Linked DNA regions of Homo sapiens. The protein of the gene in region 2 interacts with the protein of the main gene of each other region in a biochemical or structural test. Each region holds a gene or a part of one and is shown on either strand. Other genes may lie near its edges.

Evidence for each region.
Region 1: the proteins of ERBB3 (region 2) and RASA1 form a complex in vitro, tested with the Homo sapiens proteins (2 studies listed by BioGRID and IntAct, with this or other methods).
Region 3: the proteins of ERBB3 (region 2) and PTK6 form a complex in vitro, tested with the Homo sapiens proteins (2 studies listed by BioGRID and IntAct, with this or other methods).

The regions. Positions count from the first base shown.
Region 1 is NC_000005.10:87,375,872-87,382,896, reverse strand, and holds part of RASA1 (ras GTPase-activating protein 1), read right to left. Parts: intron 6,505-7,025; coding exon 6,332-6,504; intron 6,017-6,331; coding exon 5,857-6,016; intron 4,502-5,856; coding exon 4,359-4,501; intron 3,163-4,358; coding exon 3,047-3,162; intron 2,389-3,046; coding exon 2,302-2,388; intron 1-2,301. UniProt on the Homo sapiens protein: Inhibitory regulator of the Ras-cyclic AMP pathway. Stimulates the GTPase of normal but not oncogenic Ras p21; this stimulation may be further increased in the presence of NCK1.
Region 2 is NC_000012.12:56,083,142-56,090,166, reverse strand, and holds part of ERBB3 (receptor tyrosine-protein kinase erbB-3 isoform 1 precursor), read right to left. Parts: intron 6,854-7,025; exon of another isoform or gene 6,619-6,853; intron 6,417-6,618; coding exon 6,265-6,416; intron 5,173-6,264; coding exon 4,986-5,172; coding exon of another isoform or gene 4,855-4,985; exon of another isoform or gene 4,550-4,854; intron 3,637-4,549; coding exon 3,511-3,636; intron 2,591-3,510; coding exon 2,525-2,590; intron 2,373-2,524; coding exon 2,254-2,372; intron 2,147-2,253; coding exon 2,005-2,146; intron 1,625-2,004; coding exon 1,511-1,624; intron 1,420-1,510; coding exon 1,299-1,419; intron 1-1,298. UniProt on the Homo sapiens protein: Tyrosine-protein kinase that plays an essential role as cell surface receptor for neuregulins.
Region 3 is NC_000020.11:63,527,487-63,534,387, forward strand, and holds the end of PTK6 (protein-tyrosine kinase 6), read right to left. Parts: intron 6,830-6,901; coding exon 6,666-6,829; intron 6,219-6,665; coding exon 6,065-6,218; intron 5,202-6,064; coding exon 5,040-5,201; intron 3,442-5,039; coding exon 3,260-3,441; intron 2,746-3,259; coding exon 2,592-2,745; intron 2,238-2,591; coding exon 2,050-2,237; 3' UTR 515-2,049; downstream 1-514. UniProt on the Homo sapiens protein: Non-receptor tyrosine-protein kinase implicated in the regulation of a variety of signaling pathways that control the differentiation and maintenance of normal epithelia, as well as tumor growth.

The DNA of each region.
Region 1 (7,025 bases), on a different chromosome or scaffold from region 2:
GTGCCCAGGACAATTTCAAATTCCTGGCCTCAAGCAATCCTCCTGTCTTGGTCTAAACATGTTGAGATTACAGGCTTGAGCCACCATGCCCAGCCTGAAAAACTTTTAAGACAAGACATTAGGAATTCTAAAGTTTTAAAAAGTTGTCAAATTATAAAACAATAGCAAAAGCAAAAATTATACTAACAGCTGTCATATATGATTTTATCTGCTAATTTTACTTTGGGACAATGTCAGTGTTAAAAGCTTGCATAGATACTCCTATTCTGCCTCCTTTAGTCACTGGTAGGGAGGATATGTTGTCATGTAGATAATTTCTAATTTCCTTTTAAGAAGAATCCACACTAATAATTAACCTCTTACTTGCCCCATGTAAAGACAAGCATTATTCCTAAAATAATGAATTATGCAATTCCTTCTACAGATTGATAGACATAATCCATGTAAAGACAAGCATTATTCCCAAAATAATGAGTTACGCAATTCCTTCTATAGATTAATAGATACAATCTCTGTTCTCTGTTAGAGTGGATTACCCAATTTCTTAGCATTTACCTTTGAACATGTACCTGTTTGCTAATTTTTGGACTCTTAGAAAGTAAAGATGTTACTTCTCAAACAGCATTTATAGAAATTCTAATATATTGGCTGGGCATGGTGGCTCATGCCTGTAATCCAACACTTTGGGAGGCCGAGGTGGGTGTACCACCTGAGGCCAGGAGTTCAAGACCAGCCTGGCCAACATGGTCTAACCCCATCTCTACTAAAAATACAAAAATAGCCAGGTATGGTGGTGCATGCCTGTAATCCAGCTACTTGGGTGGATGAAGCACAAGAATCTCACTTGAACCTGGGAGGCGGGGGTTGCAGTAAGCCGAAATCACACCACTGCACTCCAGCATGGGCAACAGAGCAAGACCCTGTCTCAAAAAAATAACAATTAAGTCTTTAATTTTGGACTTCCCAAATTTAAAGAATCTTGTAAACTTTACTTGAAAATATTGTGATAATTATACATAGTAGGTCTATGAGCCTGAAACCTAACCTTGGCAAAAATGCCCTAAAACACCCTCTTGCACGAAACAGTTTACAATTTCCTGCTGTGTTTGCTTAACAGTTATACTTGTTTGAAACTTACAAATTTATAGAACAGTTTTAATTTACATCTCACACGTAACTGTGCTGGAATATTATGCTTGTAATTCTTTTCTATTCCTCCCAATCACCACTAATGCCAAGAAAAACAGAATCTGTAGTTCTTAAATATTATGTCATATCATAACCAAGAGAAATATTACCTGCCCCCCAAAAAAAGAAATAGAAGCCCCTTGACAAAATTTAGGTTGGAGGCAGGATTAACACATTTTCAAAACAAACTGTGTAATAATGGTGTTAATGGTTGCCTAATTATTTTACATATAGCATGACATGACAGTGTATATTCTAAATAACAAATTATATTATTAGAAAACTGCTGTATTCCATGACGCTTTCGCATTAAACTTCCATTTGCCTGGAATTAGTTGGGGTATTAGTTGGAGTATGCTTAACAAAAGCAAAAGCCTACAATAAGACTCAAGGATATCAGATTGGGTCTTAGAAAGTTACCTTTAGTTCTGCCTTAGCCACCAGCTTTCTATAAAACCTTAGTTCAACTTAACCTCTCCAGACAGATCTGCTTCTTCATTGGAAAAATAAGTTAGAATAATGATAATGAAGTAACCTTACGTAAGCTCCCAAATTCCATGATTTGCCAAAGCAGTTCTTCCTATAGAATAATGATAATGAAGTCCCTTTATATAAGCTCCCAAATTCCATGATTTGCCAAAGCAGTTCTTCCTAATTATGGTACAATGAGCAGACTGAAACACAGCTTCAGAACTACATGTTCTGGTTCTGATTAGCTCAGAGTCACAGATTGTAACAAACCAATTAATATCTAAATCGGTCAATTACTGCCCTTCTCTCTCACTGCCAATCAATGTGTGTGTATGTATGAAGAATACTATATGAAGTTAGCTACAGATTTTGTTATATAACTTTTAGCCTCATCTTGTAAGGGTTTAAAAATCCCCAATACTTGACTATAAATGAATGTTCATGTTTTTAGAAAATGCAAACGGCAGCTAAATCTCACAGTAACTTTCAGTTTAGGAGCCATCTGGACTTAGAAAATATGCAACAGGGCTTTGACATAAAAGCCAAAGAAAAAAGCATTGAATTGTATATTGTTATTCCTCAATTTTTCACAATTATCCACCTATTAGTATGTGATTTAACAAATCAATTGATGAGCCTTACCTAACAACTCTTGTTCTCATGGTGGTATTTGTAGGCCACTTATGCTGAACAGATTTCTGTAAACACCCATAAATATATCTCAATGTCCTGCCAAAATAACACAATCATCTCAACACAGAAAGCAAGTGAAAACACTGATCTCCTAGCAGCCAAAAGCTTAATTTACCCAAATATACCACAGTTCAATAAAACTGGCCTTTTACCCAAAAAAGTATTTTGCCACAGGTAATGAGGCATTTAGCAAGGGGTAAGGAAAACTTTATCCACTAAGTTTATCATCAATTTATTCAGTCAACTTCCTGACATTTACTTTCAGATATAGAGAACCAACCAGCTGCAAATTCTGGGGAGCAAGATTTAGACTTAAGTTAACTTCTACCTGAACAAGTGAGTTCACTAATACTGGAGGCCGACAAGCATATTAACAGAGTGATTAGTCTATCAAGTATAGACTAAATGGATAGACAAGATATCTTTTACAATCTCAAATCTGAAACTATAAACCTCTATTCACTCCCCAAGCTACTACAGTACAAACCAGACATATTGGCTTGTACGAAAATAATGGGTGGTTTTATTAAGACAGCTATTTTCTTTAAATACAATTCATCTCATAAAGATTAACCATGACTTTTTCAGAGTATAATAATATTAGGACAACAGAAAAGCTTTCACGTTTTAGAAATAGAAATTTCTGAAGACATAGATACACAATTTCTTGTCAAATGAAAATTTCACCACTTACGGTGGAAGTATTTCTGAAGCCATGAATATTTTCTCCACAAGCTCTGAAAGTATGTTCAATAGGTGTGTTAAATTAGTGTTCACATCTTCATTTTTTTCTAACTTTGATGGACTTAACTAAAAGAAGGAATAAATCAATATAAATGCATGTTGGCAATGACAAATGCAAATGAATAGAGGAAAACAAGTAGTTATAGTTTTCGAGGTTGTCTATTTTTCGGTATCTCTGTGTGTATTGATCTTTTTTCTTTGTATAATGGGAGTTTTTAAGTAGTTTTCTCTATGGAACTCCTCCTGGTAGGTCTGTTACCATTTATTCCCAATTAGCCAACTGAAAAGCAAACAGTGCTTAGTCAATTCTATTTATTTGAGGGGAAAAAAAGCTGATTAAAAGCTTTTCTGAATGAGGCTTATTTAATGGCTAATAAAAATATCAAATGCCTTAGGCAGAATCACAAACCTTTCTCAGAACTTTTCCTGTAACCCTTCTGATCTAGTGTCAGCAGAGTACATTTATCTATGGAAGTCGGAATTCCGTAGCCTATCTCTAAAGTCCAGAGACTCCCTACCTACCTGCTGCACTTCTGTGTCATCCTTATGTTAGGCCAACTATGGCATTACCCCACATTTCCAACATTAAATCACTAATTTCTTCCCTTCAAGTTATTAGTATGAATCGACACCTTCGTGCAGGATTAACATTTGCTAGGTCCCAGTGTCCATTGTCAAAAACAATTCCTTAAACTGATTTTTATATCAGATCTAATATATATTATTTCTTTGTAGTTGCTTTACCATTAAAATGAGAGAATATGTGTGTGAGATTCCACTTACTGTCTTAATAGTGTATTATGAATTTATACTGAAACTTTAATAATCCTAAAAAGATTTTTTTGTTTTAGTTGAGGTTATCTCATAATTCTCCCCTCGCAAAAAAACCTTCAAGAACAAACCAAGATGTAATGAAGTGCTACATAGGTTATATAATGAGTCACTAACAAAACCTTCAATTTATCTTATGCACGCTTTCTGTAAGTAGTATATAGATTATTAGTACAGTAGAGGAAATGACAAAGTATTTTCATGAATTTCTGGTGCAACTTGATGGTTTTTAATCCCAAAATAAAGTACATCTTTTTTAAGAAGTCCATTTTGCAGAACATTTTTATAAATGTATTACAGACAGGTGTAACTGCTATGAGGAATAATTTTAGAAATTTAATATATTTTCCTTAAAATGTAATTGGCTACAAATTATTACCTATTAAAATATGTTCTTTGCAAAAATACTTATTAAAACATTAAATTCTTACCTCACAAGACTGCTTGCTTTCCATTATCTTTAAAATAGAGTCTTTCAAAGCATGATGAACAAACTGTGTAGCAGTGGCTTTCATATACTGCTCCATCAAGGTGCTTGCAAGTGTTGTGGCTCGAAATAGGGTAGTGGCTTCATCTACACAAATATTTACATTAGAAGATTATTTGTAAAGGACTGACCTAATGTGACCAAATTGGAAATTAAGTGAATTCATTTTACCTCAACAGGAATAGCCACTTAAATGTGCTTTTTGCGTGCAGCGTTGAAAGTACTAATTACAATGACATCCTATACTTCTACAGACTTAACTCTGTAAGACTTTCATATGTATTACCTCATTAGATCATGAACAGAAGGGATTAACACTGCCATGTTCATATGGAAAAATGAAGACTCAGAATTGTTATATGACTTAAGATCAATTAGACAGCTAATGATAAAATTAGGACCATAAATCAGCTTTGCTGCCCATTGACCCCATGCTTTGAAATTTTAGGGTTTATTTACAATTAAGGATATAACACAAAATCCCAGTATAGATTAATTTATTAGCTTAAAATATGTCTACTGAGTTTCAGTAAAATTTTAATGAAATACAAATGCTGTCAGAAAAGATAAACTCAAGTGTAAAATAAGGACCACCATTTTATCTATTCCTTGACAAATCTATATTTTGTGATGAGGAGGAAAATAGTTCTAAACTTTACTATTTATTTGGGGAACCTAGAAGCAAGAACTGTTAATGAATCAAAGTGCTTGGTGGTGTGTGTGGGCCAGGGGGAGGGTGGATTATTTTGTAAGCCATTAAAAGCACTGTGTCCAGCAGCTTGGGAACTACCTATCTATAAAAGTTAGAAATAAAATGCAGCTGACACCCAGCTTCTGTGTAATGAAGAAGTAAAAATTAAACAAGACCTGTAACCCCGGCACTTTGGGAGGCTTGAGGCAGGCGGATCACCTGAAGTCAGGAGTTCAAGACCAGCCTGGCCAACATGGTGAAAACCCGTCTCTACTAAAAAAATAAAATAAAAAATTAGCTGGGTGTGGTGGCATATGCCTGTAGTCCCAGCTACTTAGGAGGCTGAGGCAGGAGAATCGCTTGAACCTGAGAGGTAGAGGTTGCAGTGAGCCGAGACTGCGCCACTGCACTGCAGCCTGGGCGACTGAGATGCCATCTCAAAAGAAAATAAAAAACAAGAGAATACAGATAAATATGCCAAACAGTCAAGCCATTGATGTAGACACAGATACCACCTTCTTGTGGCTTCTAGTACTTATCTGCCAAAACCTACATTAGAAATATCAGCTTCCCATAGTAACCAACATAATCAGAACTGACATCCAACTGCAATTTTTAAGGAGGGAAAACAGAATAACTTATTTTGCAATATAATTTAACAATTTAGTATATTCAGAGATAGAGTCCATATATCCTTGATATAAAATCTAAACCCAGTTTCTTGTATCACACTAACATGGCCATACCATACCTTCCATGCTTATTTCTCTGTCATTTAGTGTGCATAACAACAACGATTCAAGCTTTTCGTGAAGAAAAATCCTCAGTAGGATGCTGGCCAGTAGTGTTCGGTCTTGTCCACATACATGTGATAAAGCATAGACTACATGAAGTTCCTTTTGCAGTATAAGCTAAAATGACATTTTAAAAGATTGTTTAAAGTACGTAGCATTATAAGCATGCTCCATGAGACTAACAAGAAATATGTTCTTTCACAAGTTCTTATATTTAAAATGATGTCCCATTGAATAAATTTATTTAAAATAGAATGAATTCGTAGTCTACTTATTTCTACCAAAATTACAGTATAAAACAAGGTTTAAAATCTCTGGCATCATTGTGCTACTAAGCTATGAATTACTATGTTTACCTTAATGGATCTTTTATTAAATGTTAAATGTTTCTGTTAATTCCAACAAAAACAAGACTGATAAATAATTTAATACCTCTTTAAATTCACTGTACTCTTCTTCTGGCATGATTTTTTCCATAGAGTATCGTGCTCGAACACGCAGGGACCCTGGTTCAATACCTTTTAATGGTATATGGGAGCTGAGCAGAAACCATTCATCTGTGGCATGCCCTTTCTGTAATCGGCTCAACTGGCAGCGCATAAATACTTGGGAAGAAAAACAAGCAATTATTGTTTAAAAAGAGAACACGATAATTAGTCATGCAAGTAAATTTTCCTGGTGTTCAGTCTTCCCTATGGTGTTAAATGCTTTTCATTAAAGGAGTTTTCAGTAACATCACAAATTCAATATTTAGTTGTTTATTTACTGAGTGTCTACGGTGCACTAAACTCTGATAGGTAGAGAGTACAGAGATGATTGAGATGTGTTCTTTGAGTTGCATAGAGGTCAGTTTAGTCAAGAAGGCAAGAAATCAATTATGTTTCAGCACTGGTAAGTGCTGTTAACAGTGGTGAATGCTATTCGAGTACAGAGAAATAATATCTAATTCAGCCTGTGGAGGTGAAAACTCCACTTTAAACAGGTAACCCTTGAGCGGACGAGATCTAGAGGTGTAGCTAAGAAGAAAAGTAGTGAAAAAAGAAAAAAGAGCACTTCAAATATAAGGTATGGCCTTCGTTCTGTGTCATTACTATGGGGTTTGGATTTTATCGTAAAAGTAATGGAA
Region 2 (7,025 bases):
TTAGCCGGGCATGATGGCACACACCTATAATTCCAGCTACTCAGGAGACTGAGGCAGGAGAATTGCTTGAACCCGGGAGGCAGAGGAGGCGGAGGTTGCAGTGAGCCAAGATTGCACCACTGCACTCTAGCCTGGGGAACAGAGTGAGACTTTGTCTTAAAAAAAAAAAAAAAGTATATGGGGAATTTTATACCATTCTTGCAACTTTAGTGTAGATCTAAAATTATGTCAAAATAAAAAATTAAAGGAAAAAAAAAAACAGGTGGTCATAGTGGGTTTTTTTTACACACACACACACATTTTAAATGCTGTCCTATAGACTAGAAAGTCCCTTTGTTCTTTTTGCTCCAAGGAGCAGAATGAGTGAAAACAGCTAAAAGTCATGGGGAGACAGAATTTTCTTTTCTTTTCTTTTTTTTTTTTGAGAAAGAGTCTCGCTCTGTCGCCAGGCTGGAGTGCGGTGGTGTAATCTCGGTTCACTGCAATTTCCGCCTCCTGGGTTCAAGTGATTCTCGTGCCTCAGCCTCCTGAGTAGCTGGGATTACAGGCATGTGCACCACCACACCCAGCTAATTTTTGTGTTTTTAGTAGAGATGGCATTTCACCATGTTAGCCAGGATGGTCTCGATCTGACCTCGTAATCCGCCCACCTCGGCCTCCCAAAGTGCTGGGATTATAGGCATGAGCCACCGGGCCCAGCCTGGAGACAGATTTTTATCCAAATCTAAGGAAGAACTTTTACAAAACTTTAAGAAGGAGGTTGGGTGCTGTGATCCCTAGCACTTTGGGAGGCCAAGATGGGAGGATTGCTTGAGCACAGGAGTTCGAGATCAGCCTGGGCAACATAGCAAGACCCTGTCTCTACAAAAAAATACAAAAAAATTAGTCAAGTATGATGGTGTGTGCCTATAGTCCCAGCTACTTGGGATCACTTGAGCCCAGGAGGTCGAGGCTACAGTGAGTCGAGATCACGCCACTGCACTCCAGCCTAGGTGACAGAGCAAGACCCTATCTCAAAAAAGAAAAAAGAATAAAAAAGAAAACTTTAAGAAGGAGGATATGTTGTTCCTGTCCCTTGTTCCTTGGCAGGGCGATATTGAATTGCTCAAAGATGTTCCTGAGGGGACCGAAGGCCTGGATGGAGGATGTGTTAAGCATTCTTTCAGGTCCTTTGTAACAGGCTAGAATTTTATGACTTTGATTCCTAGTCAGCTCCACATAGGAAAGTTTTGGCCAATGAAATGAACTGTGAGGGGTGCGTGGGCTGGGGTCTAAGGAGGGAAGGCAGGATCTCTAACCCATTGAGGCCGGTGATCAGAAAGTCCAGGTTGCCCAGGATCTTGGTGCAGTTCACAAATCCATCAATGTTGCTCGAGTCCACAGTCTGGAAGCGGCTCCCAGAGCCTGTTCCCTCACAGGCTGCAAATGTAAGAGAGGTTCAGTGGGGGTGGTCTGCGCAGGCTCAGAGGAAAGGCTGTCTCTTTACAACTTCTTACCATCTCCTACCCACCTTTGGGACATAGTCCCCCACAAGGCTCACACATCTTGAGCCCATTTTTATCTACTTCCATCTTGTCAGGAGGACAGGCCCTGACACAGGATGTTTGATCCACCACAAAGTTATCTAGGGAAGAGGAGGAGGACACCATTAGAGATGAGGGAGGAACATCACCAGCTACCAATGGAACCCTTGCTCTGGGCCTAGGCTCCCTCCAGCTCTGCACTGGATTTGTCCCCATCTGCCACCCTAGATCCCTTAAGTGCTGCCCTATAGATTCAAAAGTCTCTTCACTATTTGTTGCTACAAGGAGCAGAAGTAAGGGTGATAGCTGAAGTCATGGGAGGACTGGACGTAAGGGTCACTCACTGGAGTGGTTAGATGATCATAACCATTCACCAATCTCCCTATTTATCACCAACTGGATTCTTTTTCCCTTCCACAATTTTGTCTAAAATCTTGGATCTACTATTGTTGATCATTGTTCCTTCCCCTCAGACACTTACGGGGACAGCTGGCTACACAAACTCCTCCATACTGATACTTGGTGTGGGGATTGGGTTCCAGCTGGAAAGTTAGCTTGTTGTAGACAAGAGGCTGTGGACAGCGAGGTACACAGGCTCCACTGTCATTGAAGTGCCGGCAGGCCTGGGAAAAAAGGAGGCTCATCAGATTTATGTTACGTGTGTACCCCTACCTCCTCCTCAAAGGCCACATCCCAATTTCAGAACCCAGGCAATGGAAAGGGTACATACAAAGCAGTCTGTGTCCTGAGGGCCTGAGCAGCCCCCGGCACACTCATCATGGCAGCACTGGTTGGGGTTGGGCCCAAAGCAGTGACCATTACACTGAGGAGCACAGATGGTCTTGGTCACTATGGAAGGAGAGAAAGCATGGCTGTTAGGGCTCCTAGGACTGAATTCTGAGGCCACTGCTCATGCCTCCCCCACAGTGTTGACCCAGGCTTGGGGAGGAAGGGATATGAAAGCGTATGAGTGAAGTTTTTGGAGGGAATTTCAAACCCACATGTCTGGCAGTCTTCTGATCCAGGACCCCAGCATCGCCCCTTGCAAACCTCATGACAGGGGGGACCTGGTTGGGAAGGAAGGCAACACAAGGGGCCATCAGGGCTAAGAAAGGCTTGTTTTAATCAACGGGGTATGATGTCAGTACACAGGCACCTCAATCCCGGGAAGCAAAAAGCCAGGGCTGTGTCCCTCCCTGCCCTTGGAGAGCAGGGCTGGGCTCAAGTGGACCTGTCAACAAGGGGCGCGGCCACGCCTCCACACCACCCACTGGGCAGCTGAAGGGGAGGGACTGGGGCAAATGCCAACCTTAGTCCTAGTCCCAACCCAGGAACTTAGTTCCTCCTGGGCAAACTGAATATATGCAGGAATATATGCATGTGAATGGTCAGGGGAAGGTGGGCTCCAAGGAAATGGGAGTATATTCTAGTGGAACGAGTAACAGATGTGGAGTCTAAAGATCTGGCTTCCCTGCTTAGTACTCAGGGATTTTTTTTTTTTTTTTTTGAGACAGGGTCTCACTCTGTTGCCCAGGCTAGAGTACAATGGCACAATCACAGCTCACTGCAGCTGCAGCCTCCTGGGCTCAAGCAATCCTCTGCCTCAGCCTCCTGAGTAGCCGGGATTACAGGTGCGAGCCACTACGCCTGTCTGATTTTTTTAATTTTTTGTAGATTTTTTGCTATGTTACTCAGGCTGGTCTTGGACTCCTGGGCTCAAGCGATCCTCCCACCTTGGCTTCCCAAAGTGCCAGGATTATAGGCATGAGCCACCATGCTCGGCCTGCTCCTTTTCTTGAAACACCTCCTCTGTGGTTTAGATTCCAGGAGACTGGAATGGTCTGCCCTGGTGGGCTGCTGAGTCAGGGACCTGAGGTGTTTGTTCACTGGGGAGGCGGGTTCAGATCAGGAATGTAAGGATGATGGAAAGAAGGGAGTCACTCTGGTTTGGTGGGACTGGGGAGCAATCTTGATCACGGCCACTTACAGCTTCTGCCATTGTCCTTCACCACTATCTCAGCATCTCGGTCCCTCACGATGTCCCTCCAGTCAATTGTGTCCATGTGACAAAGCTTATCGTTCTTCTCAATATAAACACCCCCTGACAGAATCTCTGAGGTAGGGAAAGAAGTGACAGGGTTAAGGGCCGCAGCGGAACGCCTCTTCCTTACCTCTCCACCCATCCAAAAGGACACCTGAGACTCAGGAGTGGGAGAATGAGGCAGACAGATAGGTCCAATTAAATCTAAGCTGCAGAGAAGACTCCCTTTATAAGATGAGGAGTCAGGCCAAAAGAAACTCCTGCCTCCTCAGTCACCTGTCCAGATCCGGTTTAGCTAGTGGGGGAGGGGAAGGGAGAGAGGGAGAGATTTCTGACTCAACATTCCCTCCCCCAAGCCCTGCCCATATGTTTTCCAACTGACTGGGACATGGAGAAGCAGAAGATGGACAGGTGGTTTTTAACCCCTATATTCCTCCAGCTCATAGGGGTTTGGTTTAGGAGAGTAAAGGTAGAATTCCTAGGGAAGGAGGGACATCCAGGTATACTGTACTTTGGTTTTTTTTTTTTTTTTTTTTTTTGGAGTCTCGCTCTGTCGCCCAGGCTGGAGTGCAGTGGTGCAATCTTGGCTCACTGCAAGCTCCGCCTCCCGGGTTCACGCCATTCTCCTGCCTCAGCCTCCCGAGTAGCTCGGACTACAGGCGCCCGCCACCACACCTGGCTAATTTTTTGTATTTTTAGTAGAGACGGGGTTTCACCGTGTTAGCCAGGATGGTCTCGATCTCCTGACCTTGTGATCCACCTGCCTTGGCCTCCCAAAGTGCTGGGATTACAGGCGTGAGCCACCGCGCCCAGGCTTTTTTTTTTTTTTTTTTTTTTTTTTGAGACGGAGTCTCACTGTCACTTACGCTAGAGTGCAGTGGTGCAATCTCAGCTCACTGCAACCTCCACCTCCCAGGTTCAAGCGAGTCTCCTGCCTCAGCCTCATGAACAGCTGGGATTACAGGTGCGCACCACTATAGCCAGCTAATTTTTTATTTTATTTTATTTTTTTGTATTTTTAGTAGAGACAGGGTTTCGCCATGTTGGCCAGGCTGGTCTCAAACTCCTGATCTCAAGTGATCTGCCCTCCTTGGCCTCCCAAAATGCTGGGATTACAGGTGTAAGCCATCAGGCCTGGCCTCCGGTACACTGTACTTTGAAATTAGAAAAACGGTTAACAGATCCAGCTCTGACTCCAGCCCCACAAGGACACAGGGTTCCTTTCCCTGGAGCAGATGCCCCTAGCTCCCCCTACTGGGGGCCCTCTATTGCTTAGGGAGCAATGGACCTTTAGACAGCGGCCAAGGTGACAGGCACCTTGGAAGAGGCACTTAGAGTGAGCAGTCTTGGGTCATCATCAAGGAGGTACCAGTCTTGGGCTGGCTGAGGGGTGAGGCCAGAAGGAACCATCGGGAACTGACCGGTGAGCTGAGTCAAGCGGAGCTGGCGCAGAGCGTGGCTGGAGTTGGTGTTATAGTTCAACATGACGAAGATGGCAAACTTCCCATCGTAGACCTGGGTCCCTCGCACCACGCGGAGGTTGGGCAATGGTAGAGTAGAGAATTCATTCATGGCCACGAGGACATAGCCTGTCACTTCTCGAATCCACTGTGACAGAGCAGATTATGTAAATGAGAGAGACAACAGGGCAAAATAATCTCAATCTCCTCTCCTCCTTCAGGCATTAAAGACTCTTTAACTGTTTTAATTCTTCCTTCTTTCTTTCCTTTCTTTTTTTCTTTTTTTTAAAATTTGAGACGGAGTTACGCTCTTGTTGCCCAGGCTGGAGTACAATAGTGCGATCTTGGCTCACCACAACCTCCACCTCCCGGGTTCAAGCAATTCTCCTGCCGCAGCCTCCCAAGTAGCTGGGATTACAGGCATGTGCCACTACACCTGGCTAATTTTGTATTTTTAGTAGAGATGTGGTTTTTCCATGTTGGTCAGGCTGGTCTCGAACTCCTGACCTCAGGTGATCCGAGCTTGGCCTTTTTTTTTTTTTTTGGTGAGACAGGGTCTCGCTCTGTTACGAGTGGCACAATCTCGCTCACTGCAGCGTCAAACTCCTGGGCTCAAGCAATCCTCCCACCTCAGCCCTCCAAGTAGCTGGGACTACAGGTGCATGCCACCATACCCAGCTAATTTTTGTATTTTTGTAGAGACAGCGTTTCACCACATTGCCCAGGCTGGTCTTGAACTCCTGACCTCAAGTGATCTGCCTTCCTTGGCCTCCCAAAGTGCTGGGATTACAGGCATGAGCCACTGCACCTGGCCTTAACTCTTGCTAATTCCTATTTGGGAGTAGGGAGTAGACTGTGTCACACTGCTGTGTCACTTCTGGGAGTGAAGACAGGCAGCTTTCTCCTCAAAGTGCCTCATACCAGTAGGGCCCCTTCCTCATCTCCCCAGGTAACCTCTTGGTCCTCAGGTTTCTCTCTGCACTAGTCCCTGCTGACCTTGCACTATCCACAGAACACCACCTGCCCCTGACCCTGCCCCCTATATATCCCTGGCTACAACAGTGAGACCATAGGTCCCAGATGACAGCCACTGTCCCCATAAATACACGGTTTTGAATCTTAGGAACTCCTGAGTCTTAGGAAGGGTGAACTCCAGCAGAAGGTAGCCCTGAAGAAGGAAGGAGGGTTCTAGGGGAGAATAAAGAGGAGCAGGTTGAGGAAGGAGGGTGGGCTCACTAACCTGCAGGAAGGAGAGGTCGGCATTGTGTCCCGTGAGCACAATCTCAAGGTTCCCCATCACCACCTCACACCTCTCGTAGAGCTTGTACAGTGTCTGGTATTGGTTCTCAGCATCGCCGGTCACACTCAGGCCATTCAGAGTCCCAGGACACACTGTTCAAAGCAGAGGGAAGAGTGGCTGAGGGCTGGACACAAATTCTCAGCCCATCTGCCATCCCCAAAGATCACCCCCTTGGTTGCCCTCTTCCAGTTACATTAGACAGGATCAGATGGCATTTGCCTCCAACCCTCCCACAAGCGATAGGCAGAAGCTGTAGTGGCCTGAGAGCTTTCTCTCTTCTCAGAATCCCCTTACCATTCCATGAATGGGAAGGTGAAAAGATTTCCTTTTTCAACCTGGGACCCCTCTGTGCTTCTTTTGGGTACTAAGGGGTTAACTGAGAAGGAAGACAGGGAATTTGTTTCTCTCCCTAGAAAAGAGAAGTTAGGAAAAGGCCGCAACTTTGATTACCCTCCTCTCCCCCTCCAACTAGGGCACTCACTTCTCTACCCTCATCCTGCCTCTCTCTAGGTCCTGGAATAAATATCTCTTTGGGACTAGTACACAGCCCCTATTGTGTCTACTGAGGGTGGGATGGGGGCAGAGGGTGGGGGCAGTGCCTGGGGCCACAGTCCAGCCCACAATGAGGCGATTCTATCCAGGAGGGGGGCTGCCCCACCCTGTCCCTAGACACCCCGTCCTCAGCAGCACTCCCCTCCACC
Region 3 (6,901 bases), on a different chromosome or scaffold from region 2:
ATTCCTGTAGTCCCAACTATTCAGGAGGCTGAGGCGGGAGGATCACTTGAGCCTGGGAATTCAAGGCTGCAATGAGCTGTGGTCACGCCACTGCGCTCCAGCCTGGGTGACAGAGCAAGACCCTGTCTTCAAAAACAAAAACAGAAACAAAAAACGTTTTCTTACATCTGGAAAACAAAATATTAAAGAACCGTAATGCTTCAGACAAAAGTCATTAAACAGTAAACATCCTCGTCAGTTCATTCATTCCCATGTCATTAATTCTTGTTCTGGTTGATCCTGGGACAGAACTTTCATGGACCTGCCAGGTCCCTCCTTCGAGTTCTGGAAATTTGCACCCAATCCAAGGCTATGACCTGAACCAGAAACCTGTGCTCCAGAGCACCTGTCAGAATCCTTCCCAGGAATCTCTTTGAAGAATAAACAATTTGGGACTAGCTGATTGCAAAGCTTTCAGAAAAAATCAAAGTAAGATAATAACTGTGAATGACCGAAGACTTAAGATAGCCATGGCTCAGGATCTGATGAGAGTTTATTATATTCGTGACACGGTTGGCAAGGAAACTTGGTTATTTCTGTGGCATGCAGCATTTTAATGTAATAACCAAAATTATGACTGATAACATTGCACCAGATTTCTAGGAATAGCATGTGAGATAGGATATATATCATAGGATAACGTATCAGATTTCTAGGAATTTTATAGAGTTTCTGCAACATTCATATCAAAACCAAACCCGTAAATAGAACCTCCAGAAGACTTAGTGTGACTTACTATTTCACACGCTTTCCATCTCATGTAGCACATCGGATAAGCCTGATTAGTCTGACATCTGTCTTTCACAAGGCAGAAGACAAATCCTTTTGAGAAATCCTAGTACCTTTCCAGAAACTCCCAAAATTATTTTTCTTTCTTTCTTTTTTTTTTTTTTTTTTTTGAGATGGAGTCTCGCTCTGTCGCCCAGGCTGGAGTGCAGTGGCGCGATCTCGGCTCACTGCAAGCTCCACCTCCCGGGTTCACACCAGTCTGCTGCCTCAGCCTCCCACGTAGCTGGGACTACAGGCGCCCACCCCCACCACCACACCCAGCTAATTTTTTGTATTTTTTAGTAGAGACGGGGTTTCACCGTGTTAGCCAGGATGGTGTCGATCTCCTGACCTCGTGATCCACCTGCCTCAGCCTCCCAAAGTGCTGGGATTACAGGCATGAGCCACCGTGCCCCGCCTATTCTTCTTTTAAACCAAAAAAACTTTCAGGTGAGTCAAAACCAAAACCAATAAGCTTTTTATGACTTAACCATGGATGAAAGAGACACCTTCAAAATCAGGTGCAAAGGAGGCAGCCCCCCCAGCCCGGAACCACCCCACAGACAGTAGAGAAGGGCCCTTGTCAGCGCAGGAGTGAGGGGCGCTTTCCAGCACTGACCCAGCGACAAAGGTGAAGGTGGGAAAAGCCCCTTGTGGACGTGGACGGTGAAACTGAGCTGGCGCCTCGGGCAGTGATGCTTGGGCTGGCAGAGACCAGGGAGAGAGTTCTCACTGGTCATAAGGCCAAGCTCTCAAGACACAAGACAAACAGGAAAGAAACACCTGCCCCTGGGAGGAAAGAACCCTTGAGCACCAAAACCAAATTTACATGAGCGTCCCGAGCCACGCGAATGACTTTCTCCCACCAAGCTGAACTGGGAAGAGCAGGAACAAGGCGTGTTTGCCTCCCACCCTCAGCCGGGCACTGCAGACAGACAGCCAGAGAGCGGGCTGTGGTCAGAGTCCCCTCTGACCTCTGCTGGCTTCGTGTCAGTCTCCCGGATCTCATCTGCAGGCTCCAGAGCAGGCTGCGTGTCAGCAGCTGAGACCCAAGGCACACACGATGGAGTAAGGAGAGGAGCACACGCGTGTATTGGACGCAGACACTCCACATTTGTGAACCTTTCCTGCACCCATCACCTCAGTAAACCCCAGGGAAGCGCGTGGGCCTTGATCCCAGGTCCAGGCCCTCTGCCCAGGCCCCTCCTCAGCAGGGCCCGGCCATGCCCGCTCCACAGCAGCTCAGGTCGGGTTCTCGTAGCTGGTGAAGCTGGAGAGCCTCTCCCGCAGGGCCTTGAAGCAGGGTCTCTGCTCGGGGTCCCTGCACCAGCATGTCAGCATCAGCTTGTGCACGCTGGGCGGGCACTCCAGAGGGCAGGGCATGCGGTAGCCGGCGTCCACCCTCAGGAAGGCCTCATGGTTGGACATGCCTGCGGCCGACAGGGATGAGAAGAGCTGGGGCCCACCTGCCTACCCTCCCCCAAGAAGCCACACCAGCCATCCACTGCCCCTTCCTGGGGCCTTCCCCGCAGCCTCAGCTGCCATGCCTTGGCGCCACCCAGCACACTGTCCACTGCTAACACCTCCCTCTGGACAGGGCTCCAACAGGCAGCTCCAGGCACCAGCCTGGGTGCTCAGAGAATGGTGCAGGTGTGGAGTTCAGGCGATGGCCCGCGGAGGGCCCTGAAGCCCGTGGGGGAGGCACCCCCCAGCGTCCCTGCCGGCTACCCAGGACCTCCCCCACTCTGCCTCTCATGCCCAGTCAGGGACAGTGGGGACAGTACCTGGGTAGGGCACCTGACCCCTGCTGAACATCTCATGCAGGAGAATCCCAAAGGACCAGACGTCGGATTTGGTGGAGTAATGGCCTCGGGAGAGCGCTTCAGGGGCCGTCCACTTGTAGGGGATATTGTGGTCATGGGAGAGGTAGACGTCCTCCTGCAATCAGCCTGGAGCTGAGTGGGCCGTGGGGGCTGCCTGTGCCCTGCCCCCGAAGCATGGACGGGCACAGCGGCCGCATTGCCCCAGCAGTGGGACGGTGATGACCCCACTGTCTGACCCACGCACGGCCGCTGCAGCTAAGGCCACACTGGGGCCTGACCACCTTCAGGAGCCCAACTTCCCCTGGGATTGCAGGTGTGTGGGGACCGGAGGGCCCGGGGGACAGGGAACTGGGAGGCTCCCAGGCCGTCAGAGGGGCCCAGGGCTGGGCCAGTGAACAAGGCACGTGAACAAGGCAGCGGCTGCGTGGTGGGCCCTGCTGTGCGTGCCATTCAGAATGGGGGCCCCACCGGACTCACGGTGGCTTCCCACCTCCCTGCCCAGCCTGGGCTCCCGAGGGCAGGGGCCGCATCCTGCTCCCAGCCGAGTCCCCAGCTCCACACACAGGAAGCCCCCAGCCCTCCGGCCACGCCCCGGCCACGACCCCAGCCACGCCCTCTGAGGGCCCTACCTTGATAAGCCTGGCTAACCCGAAGTCCCCAACTTTGCAGAGGGTGTTTTCCCCGACGAGGATGTTCCTGGCGGCCAGGTCCCGGTGGATGTAATTCTGCGACTCCAGGTAACACATGCCCTCAGCCACCTGCCAGGCGATGTCCAGCAGCTCCGAAACGGGCAGGACTTTCTCATCAGAGTCTGCAGAGGGGAGTGGAGCAGAGCCTGGGGTCAGCTGAGCCAGCTGAGGTGGGGAAGGGTTGGGGAGGCTGGGCCATGTCTCATCTGCCTCCAAGCTCTGCGGGCTCAGAGGAGGGGCCGGGGCAAAGGGCAGCTGGCCTGATTGAAAATTGGAACTGCAGGCCAGCTACCGCCCTTCTGGAAGGCAACTGTTTATCACGAACCAAGGAGCAAGCTGGGCGTGGTGGCTCACGCCTGTAATCCCAGCACTTTGAGAGGCTGAGGCGGATGGATCACGAGGTCAGGAGATCGAGACCATCCTGGCTAACACGGTGAAACCCCATCTCTACTAAAAATACAAAAAATTAGCCGGGCGTGGTGGCGGGCGCCTGTAGTCCCAGCTACTCGGGAGGCTGAGGCAGGAGAATGGCGTGAACCCGGGAGGCGGAGCTTGCAGTGAGCCGAGATCACGCCACTGCACTCCAGCCTGGGCGACAGAGCCAGACTCCGTCTCAAAAAAAAAAAAAAAAAATATATATATATATATATATATATATAATTAGCTGGGCGTGGTGACAGGTGCCTGTAATCTCAGCTACTCAGGTGGCTGAGGCAGGAGAATCATTTGAACCCAGGAGGTGGAGGTTACAGTGAGCCGAGACTGCGCCATTGCACTCCAGCCTGGGCGACAGAGTGAGACTCCGTCTCAAAAAAAAAAAAAAGAACCAAGGAGCAGTTCCTAGTGGTCTAGCCCAGCGATTTCCCTTCTGGAAGTTTGTGATGACGCGGGAGGAGCTGGACGCAGAAGGACCAGCGAAGAGGCTCATGACTGCGTGATGTAGGCAGTGGGAACTCGAACAGGAGAATGGCTGTCAGCGGCTTGCGGCCTGGTGGTGCCTGTTTTACCCCACATTCCCTCCCGGAGGACCCTGAAGGGCGTGGGGACTGTCTGAGATGATCAAGCCCTTTGTGTGAGGGCGAGGGGTACGGAGCCTTTCGCTCAGAGCGCAAACGTGCGTGGTGCCTCAGTGTAGCTCTCCTCAGACACACACGGCATTTTTCCTATACCACAACGTTCCCTCCCATTCTAACATCGGAATCCAAACTGCGCCTTCACGCACGGGCATCTCCATTCCCTGGCAGCGATTGTCTTTGGTTTTGGTGAGAAAGGAAATAATGGAACTTAGAGAGGATGAAGTCTTTGAGCCAATGTGATCTGTGTGTGTCTGTGTGTGTGTCTGGATCAGTGTGTGTCTGTGTGTGTGTGTGTCTGTGTGTGTCCGTGTGATCTGTGTGTGTGTCTGTGTGTGTCCGTGTGATCTGTTTTGTGTGTCTCTGTGTGTGTGTCTGTGTCTATGTGTATGTCTGTGTGTGTCATGTGATGTGTCTTGTGTGTGTGTCTGTGTGTGCATGTGTATGTCTGTGTGCATGTGTGTGTGCATGTGTGTCTGTGCGTGTGTGTCTCTGTGTGTCTGTGTCTGTGTCTGTGTGTGCATGTGTGTGTCTGTGTGTCTGTGTGTCTACGTGTGTGTGTGTGTAGACGTGGGGGGGGGGTGTGCACTTTATTTCCTCACGTGCCCCCGCTGCCTCCAGCAAGAGCCCCGGCCCATGCCACTCACCGCGGAGCAGCTCCAGCAGGCTGCCCTTGGCCATGAGCTCCGTGATGATGTACACGGGGTCCCCCACGGACACCACGGCGTACAGCGCCAGGATGTGTTTGTGCCGCAGCTTCTTCATGGCCTGGATCTCCGACTGCAGCATCTGCTGGTGCAGGAGGTTGTCTGCGGGGACGGGTGGCCTCGGTGGATGCAGCCCCTGACCCCCCAGGCCCCAAGGAAGAGGCCAAGGCCCTGCCCCCACACACAGCAGCCATCACACCCAGCAGCTGTGCAGGACACACAGACCTCCTGCCCCCGACAGGGCACCTGGCTCCCGAGGCCACGAAATGGCAGATGCAGCCGGCCCCACAGGGCCCCAGCCTGGCGTACCCACGGGGCTGTGGTGGCCACCCGATTTCTTCCTGTGCCCGGCCCAGACCTCTGACATAGAGGCCAGACCTCTGCTGGGGCCCAGACGGGTTCCAGGGAAGTTTTACCCATTTCCAGTGATCTATTTTAATGGCTTTCCATTACGTCAAGGATTTTAAATTTTCTTTCTTTCTTTCTTTTTTTTTTTTCCCAAGACGGGGTCTTGCTCTGTCGCCCAGGCTGGAGTGCAATGGCGCGATCTCAGCTCACTGCAATCTCCGCCTCCTGGGTTGAAGCGATTCTCCTGCCTCAGCCTCCCGAGTAGCTGGGACTACAGGCACATGCCTCCACACTCGGCTAATTTTTGTATTTTTAGTAGAGACGTGGTTTCCCCATGTTGGCCAGGCTGGTCTCAAACTCCTGACCTCGTGATCCGCCCACCTTGGCTTCCCAAAGTGTGGGGATTACAGATGTGAGCCACCGTGCCCGGCCTAAAATTTTCTTTTATAATAAATGTATTTAGGTAAAAACATAGGTGCAATTGAAAGGGAACCACTCTCGCATGGACGCTGTGGGTGCTGCTTGGGGCTCGAGGCCAGAGGTCCCTGTTGGCGGGGTGGGAGGGTGGCCCAGGGCAGGCACGGGGCCACACAGAGCCCTGATCGGGGCCCACTCACCTCGAGAAATCACCTTAATGGCCACCTGGACCCGGTCTTTCCAGAGCCCCTCGAAGACCTCCCCAAAGTAGCCGGACCCCAGCTTCCTGCAGAGCGTGAACTCCTCCCTCGGCCTCTCCCAGTCATCCCAATGGGGCAGGGGCTCAGGCTCGTGCTGGAGGAAGAGTCGGGGACACAGGGCAGGGGCTCATCCTTCAGGAAGTGCCAGTCTGAAGCCAGCACAGGGAGCCTGGATTTAGCCTCAGATTTAGGGCCACGATCAGCCTGGGTTGGGGGTTTCTGAGTGTCTGACACAAGGGTGGACTCTCCTGGGGGCTGCCCCCAGCCCAGCATGAAACACCCAGACAGACCGGAGCCAGGACCCTGCAGAGTGCCGCTGGCCTCTCCGAGAGTGGCCAGGCCCGGGGATGGTCTCCTGGCCCCACCCCCAACTCAGGCAAACACCTGTGCTCTGCAGAACCATGGGCTTCCCTCCAGTGGGCCCCAGGTCAGTGAGTCAGGACCCCTCCCATGCTGCCCGGCCAACCTCTCCCAGTAGGAAATGCCAGCCTGTGACCCCCCAGCCTGACCCCGCGTGACCAAGTCAGGGCGGAGCGGCTACCTTCCGGCAGGGCGCGGCCAGCCGCAGGCCGTGGGACAGGCTCTGGGCCCTGTGGTAGTTCACAAGCTCGGGCAGGCTGAGGAAGGACACCGCCTCGTTCAGGTGCAGCCGGCCCCCGGCACGCCGCCAGATCTTGTAGTGCCGCACAGCCTGCGTGTCCCGCACTGGGAGGGAGAGCGTGAGCTGTGTGGCCACCCCAACTCCGACGCCTCCCTGCGTCCCCAGCCCTGCTGGCC